Homo sapiens: one gene and its partner. The protein of the gene in region 1 purifies or fractionates together with the protein of each later gene. This does not show direct contact. Each region holds a gene or a part of one and is shown on either strand. Other genes may lie near its edges.

Evidence for each region.
Region 2: the proteins of TESMIN (region 1) and MTHFD2L purify together in Homo sapiens (affinity purification with mass spectrometry; one large-scale study listed by BioGRID and IntAct). This does not show direct contact.

What each region holds. Positions count from the first base shown.
Region 1 is NC_000011.10:68,710,108-68,713,555, forward strand, and holds part of TESMIN (tesmin), read right to left. Parts: intron 3,301-3,448; coding exon 3,163-3,300; intron 943-3,162; coding exon 767-942; intron 1-766.
Region 2 is NC_000004.12:74,199,533-74,203,190, forward strand, and holds part of MTHFD2L (bifunctional methylenetetrahydrofolate dehydrogenase/cyclohydrolase 2, mitochondrial), read left to right. Parts: intron 1-261; coding exon 262-414; intron 415-1,730; coding exon 1,731-1,838; intron 1,839-2,931; exon of another isoform or gene 2,932-3,101; intron 3,102-3,658. UniProt on the Homo sapiens protein: Bifunctional mitochondrial folate-interconverting enzyme that has both NAD/NADP-dependent methylenetetrahydrofolate dehydrogenase and methenyltetrahydrofolate cyclohydrolase activities.

The DNA.
Region 1 (3,448 bases):
TGATCGCACCACTGCACTCCAGCCTGAGCAACTGAGTGAAAGCCCTGGTCTCAAAAAAAAGACCCCTGTAGGTCACAATCATGAGTATTTCTGATATCTCTCTAACCAAATAAGCATGAATTTGGCTTTGCAAAATATTAATTAATGACATCTGGTAGTTTATCATGATATGACCATTACATTGAACTCGAAGTTTTTTTTAAACAAATGAATGGAATCTAATAGATAGTAAAACTATGACTCAACTTTGAGAACTACTAGGATTACAATGTGGCTTCAAAACTGATAAATGCAAAATTATCCAACTAATCCGGATCCACAACTGCTTAGTAAGGAAAACAATCTGGACCAAGTACAGCTCTTTGCTGCCACTTCCCACGATAAAGGATAGGGAGGTACGCACTGTCTTTGCTGCGCTGGGTCGTTGTGGCTCTATATTAACGCAAAGGCAGTGTCAGAACTCTGCTAGCCCTGCTGGTGATCCTGGCAGCAGGGCTCTTTTGTCTGGTACAAAACGGGAGTAACTCAGACAGTGAGGATGAGAAGACAAAGAGGACAAAACAGGTTTCTGCAGCGGGGCCTCTAAGGAAACACAGTGGCCACCCAGGATTAGCCCATGGAGGGAGGAACGACTTCCCTCTGCCCCCAAACACACGCCCGCCCCTGCAGGCTCACACATTCTTTCCAGTGTATAAATTGTCGTTAATTCTCCTCTCAAATTAACCTCTGTTCCCTCTATTAGCAGAGGTTAGTTCAAAGTACCTACCTATCGTGACTGAATCTTGGAAGTCCTGAAAATTTCGTTGGTGGCAGGTAATGGCTGCCTTCCAAACCTCCAGTCTGCATGTAGTTTGGCATGCTCATTAGTGTCTTTCGTTCTGGGCTTTCTTCATAATTTTTGCAACCAATGCATTTGCAAATAGAAGAACACATAATTTGGGCCTGGTAATATAAAATGCTTCAATAAAATTAGGTTGTCTCACAAGTCATCAAAAACTGACAAATTCTATTTGGACCTTAAATAATTCTTCGCGTATATTTGCCCATGACAGAGAGTGTGTGTGTGTCTGTGTGTGTTGAGTGTGAATGTGTGGGTGAGAGCGTGTGTTGAACGTGAGTGTGTGTATGAGTGTGTGTGGGGTGTGTGTGTGTTGAGTGTGAATGTGTAAGAGTGTGTGTGTGTTGAGCGTGTATATGAGTGTGTGTGGGGTGTGTGTGTGTCGAGTGTGCGTGTGTGTGCATGAGTGTATGTGGGGTTTGGGTATGTGTGTGTATATGTGTGAGTGAATGTGAATGTGTGTGTGACTGTGTGTGTTTGAATGTGTGCGTTTGAGAGTGTGTGTGTGTGTGTGACCTGCAGTTTTCATCAAGTGCTGCTGTTGTGGAGATGCCATAGTCCTGCTGCTGACAGAGTGGAGGCCGAGTGTATGGGTGTGAGTCCCAAGCAGAGAGAGGGTGTTGCTCTCCCTTCTCTACCCGGGAGCCAGCAGGCTGCTTCTTTGACTTGTTTTGAAGAAAGCCTGCCTTAGCTGATTATAAAACTCTAGCTTATGGTTCTCTTTCAGCATGTGAGGCTATTATGCTGGTTCTATGGGTGCAGAGAATGTACAAGAGAGTAGAATTCGAAATCTGCCTGAGAGCAGGCCTGTGGCTGGGAGCTGTCAGGGGAGACCTCTCCTGCTGCCTTGTGGGTGGATTTTGTTTCAAGCTTTTCCTGGCAATGTGATGCTGAGGGGGCCGGCATGTCCCATCTGTACCCAGCAAGCCCCCTCTTGCCCCCTCATGCCAAATTCTTGCTCATGTGGGCCCCAGGGGCTGACCAAGAGCTGGCACTGCCAATCACTATGGTTTTTGGCTTTCTCTTTCCTTCAGCCCCCCGGGGATTTCCCTCTGTTCTTTCCAGCTGAGAGATGCATCTTCAGGGGGATGCGTTCTGTTTCATCTGCACCTCTGGGTGTTTTGAAGCAGGAGGCTTTATAGAGTTTCTAGTCTACACGAATGCCAGAGACTAAAGGGCAGTGCTATCCCTTTCCTCTGAGCCTGCACATTCTGTGGGCTGTGCCCAGCATAGGCTCTGCCTTGGGGAAGTGGGCTGAGCCACAGTTCCATGGCAGCCAGTGAAGGTGTTTTGCAGGACAGAGGAGCTGCTGTGGGTGCGATTGGAAGTGGTTCCTCGGGGGTGATGTCAGTCCCATTTCAACTGTGCATCTCTGTCGTGTTTTGACTGTGTTTTCCACATCCGAGCTGGGGAGTGTGGGGTCCACCTTCCCAGGTCTTTCAGTGCATGTCTCCAGAATCAGGTGGACTGTTCTCAAGCCCAACCCTCTGTGACAGACAGCCTTTGAAAAGTATAATTCACAGGAACCCCCAAAAGACCTCAAGCAAACCAAAACAGAGGTTTGTAAGGAAGGTTTGCTCGGCTGTTCCCCTGATAGGGCCTAAGGGTTCCCTCACTTTCTCTTTCCTCCTTTCCCTCAACACAAAGGAAAAGAGAAATAGCAAAGAGAGGTGAAACTGCGACAGCACTGAAGGGGAAAGTGGGTCCTCATTAATCTTTGGGAAAAGAAAAAGCTTTTGTCCAGGCCGTGATCTGCAGCTTGCTTTGTTAGCCTCTCTCCATTGGCTTAGGCTGGCTGTCCATTCTGGTCTCTGATGGGGCTGTGAGCCAGGGAGGAGCTACCCTTGGTCAAAGCACCAGGTGAATGGATGTCTGGGGACAAGCGCCACAGGGACTTGGAACTGACTGAGACTTTGAGGCCAAACTGTCCCCCACGGCCCCACCTAGAGCACCTGGGCTTTGCTCAGGGAGGAAGAGGCGCGGCTGCCCTCCGGGAGCTTCCACCCTGTTGGAGGACCAGCGTGGATCAGTGGCCACAGAGGGACAAAGCCACGCAGAGGGCACCCTCACTGGGTACTCAGGGCTGGGCTCAGGGGAAGCAACATGCTCCAAAAGGAGCCCTCAGCAAATTGACCCGGTTCACAAAGCTCAGCTGTATTTGGGAAATTAATTCAGATTGATGTAAGTGTCCTTCTAGAAACTCTGGAAGAAAAAAATAATTATATTTATCTTTTTAAATTACAGCAAAGTTTTTTTAACCACAAAAGTTACTCAACATATTTACCTGTGTTTTTTGTTAGTGAGTTAGGGAGCTGGGCACTAACCTCATAGCACTCGCAGTAATTCTTCAGGCAGCCTGACCTCCTGCAGTTGCACCCTTTGTTGTGCTGGGGCTTGACATTGCCCAATTGGCCCTTCCCAATTTTTGGCTGGAAAGCTTCTGGATTTCTACCAAGACATGCCTAGGGTAGAATGGGAAGCTCCATCAGGATGGATTTTATCATTTAAAACTCAGCTCAATGAAGGGCATCTCATTTGAATCTGATTGTTGTAAAAGATGCCACAATAAACAGAGTCTCTTGACATGGTTCAGAAGGTGCAGCCCCTTCT
Region 2 (3,658 bases), on another chromosome or scaffold:
CAATTTTTTTTCTTTCACCGGTCCAGCCACTTTTGGCTCTGGAATAGCATATACTCCAACTGCAGTTCATTACAGCCATCAGTCAAGAGCACTTTGGCTTACTATTTTGGTGGCAAATAATAATAATAATAATAATAATGACTTTACACCTTTTTTAGAGCCGAATTATAAGTGATGTGGCTTTAGATTCTCAGATTTCATTTTTCAGGCTACCAAATAAATAACAATTTTAAAATTAGACAAATTTTATTTATTTTTCAGACCACGTTGATGAGCGAACAATATGCAATGGAATTGCCCCAGAAAAAGATGTAGATGGATTTCATATTATCAATATTGGAAGATTGTGCCTTGATCAGCATTCTCTCATACCTGCCACTGCCAGTGCTGTTTGGGAAATAATAAAAAGAACAGGTTGGTAATTTGTGGTCTGCAGGACATGGATGCTAGGTGCTGAGCTGAGCCTTTGTGCACTGAGACTTGATGGGACTACCTCAGTCCTATAGAGTGACAGAAAATCATAATCCATAAAACGTCAGTGTACAGAGAGATATAAAATTGTAGAAGTCAAAACATAATACAATCCTGGCTAACACAGTAAAACCCTGTCTCTACTAAAAATACAAAAAATTAGCCAGGTGTGGTGGCGGGCACCTGTAGTCCCAGCTACCTCGGAGGCTGAGGAAGGAGAATGGCATGAACCTGGGAGGCGGAGCTTGCAGTGAGCCGAGATCATGCCACTGCACTTCAGCCTGGGCGACAGAGCAAGACTCTGTCTCAAAAACAAAACAAAACAAACAAAACAAACAGAAAAAAAAATCCAAAATAAAATGAAACGAAGAGCATTAGCCAGATTATAGATAACTGCAGTTGCAACTTATAGGAAGTGAATTTTCCACATAGTAGTGGTATATGTCGGCCTTTAAAATGTAAACTTCATGCATTTTGATGAAAACTTTTCTAAAATATATTTTTCTGTACCTTTAAAAATATGTTCTGATCACATAGTTATCATTTCTATTGGCTTGGGTTTTAATTTTAAACATTTACCCTTGTACTGTACTGGATACGGTAATGCTCTCACAGACTCTTACAAAAGAAGTTTTCTTTCTGAGAAAGAAAAACTTCCAAGGGAAAACAGATCCTAGAATCATACTCCTACACTGTTAGTATTGGAAAATCCTTAGTTCTAACTTCTTTGCTTTACTTATGAAGAAACTGAGTCCAAAAGAAGTAGAAGGTTCTACAGGCTTTATTTTTTTACATCTTTCTAAGTCTGTAAGTTTAGTGCTTCTTTCCTATGGAGTAAAATGCATGAGCTTTGTGAAAAATGCCTCTTTTCTTACTTGTTTTGTTCCAGCGTTGCTCAAAATTTGATTGCCAATTAAGTTCGACATTGTTGTACTTTGCTTTTTTTATAAGCAGTTAATATATGTTAAAACTCTACTCTTCTAACTCTTAATGTGACTCTCAATGTTTAAAAGCAACTTAATGTCAACTTAAGAATGTCTGTGGTTTTTAATGAGTACATAATCAGAGAAGAAGTGACAAATCAAAGAAGCATAAAATGAATTATTTATAAATAATGAATGTGCTCATATTATAGATAAGCCACATAATAATTCAGATTTAATTAGAAATTTTTAAAAGAATGTTTCAGTTGGCTGTACAAATGTTTAATTTACTTCTTGTTGTCAATTCTGCATTTAAACCGAACTCTGTATTTTAAGGAATTCAAACATTTGGAAAAAATGTGGTTGTGGCTGGAAGATCCAAGAACGTAGGGATGCCTATTGCCATGCTTTTACACACTGATGGAGAGCATGAACGGCCAGGAGGTAGGTAGAACCTTGCAGATTCTACACTCTCTCGCAGTATTCTTACTTCTTACATCATCAAGTAAACACTTTTGATAATGCAGCTTATTATATTTGTGGGTTTATGCAGTTCAAAGTCTCCTTTATTCCTCATTTAGTGATGTGAGAGTCTTGAAAGTGACTGTAGGAATTACTGAAAATATGTGGCCATTTTCTCTATTTTTTTTTTTTTTGGCTATATGCACTTTGTTTAAATAATTAACAATTAGACATTAAGAAAGGTGCAAAGCTACTAGATACAAAAGATTCACATGCCCTCAGGAAATACAAAACAAGACATCTCTTGGATGTAGAATTCCTGTAGTGGCAAGGTCTTAGCACTTTAGAAATCAGCTAGTTAGTTTATTTTACAGACAAGAAAGCTGAGGCTTAGAGTTGTTATCTGATTATATAGGTTAAACAAATAGTCATTGTCCTATGAGTAGTAGTGACACTCCAAGTCACTGACAAAGCCCAGGAAGATGTGTTAGCCTTAGAGAACATGCAGCCATTCCAGGTGTTGGTCATCTGAACATCATCCCAAGACCTTGGTTTCTTCAGCAGTCTAATAGCTAGATACAGAATAGCTCCCCAGAAATTTGCAGGGGTCTGTCCCACAGACCCTGACCCAACGATGGATGAATAAAGTACACTGACACACAGATATTCTGCTTTACCAGTCCAGCTGAGCATCTGGGCCGCTTACAGACTCCACGCACAGTGCTGTAAACAGTTGCGACTATGGTCTCAATCAGTCAGCAAGACTTATGTTTATTCAGTAAAGATTAATTGACAAAGGCTTGGGTCAACACCACTAGAGTGTAATTGACATTGTGGACTTCCCAAGTAGAAAGCAATTAAGCACCCATGGTAGATCAAAGGTTAGTCTTAGGACCACACGAGTAAACAAGCTAGTTAGGTAAACTCTCCACATTCCTTTATTTCTACTCTAGTTTATTTAACTAAAGATAAGGGGACTAGGCTGCCTTCAGACTGATTTATTACTGAAGTTATGCAAACCCTCAGACCTTCCAACAAGGTTTGTGGCTATTAAAACTAAAATTTTTCCCACCAGCCTGACTGAACCACCACAGAAATGGAAATGGAGATGGAATGAAAAGGAAATACAGCAAAGGGGTGATGGGGCATTGTTCGTGGTTGTCTGAGCCAGTGCTGTGGGAGGAGGGCACAAGGGTTATTCAGCGTATCACTGTCTGCTAAATTCTGCATCTTGTTCTAATCTAGGTAAAACACCAAGTTTTCATGTTCTTAATAGAAGTAGTTATTGGTTTATCTATGTGTTAGAGACGTGTTGTACTTTGTTTACCATTTATTACTTCTAATCTTTCTCCCCCTAATTTTTGATACAGTACTTCATTGGTTTCTCTAATTCCAAAGAAGAGGATGGGCTACTTTGCTGCTTGCTTTCTAATATTTAACCAGAATGATAGACACCTATGTGCTCATCATGTACAGCACACGCACACATGCACACATGCATGCACACACACAGCATATATATATAGATTTCTTATTATTAACCTTGTTGAATTCGAGTTTCCTGATCTCAAACTTTCAATAATACTTGTTTTAGGATCTTGATTGACATGATACTTATGACATAATTTTTAAAACACAAAGCTCTATGGAAAAATAATCCCAGTATTAACTTATCTAAAATGATGAATGATGACACTTTTGAATAATATTTTCCCTTTCTATGCCTAAAGAATTAAATATTGCCAGAAATCAATACATATATATATGTGAATCACAGTAAATTAAGACTTGATAATGACTCC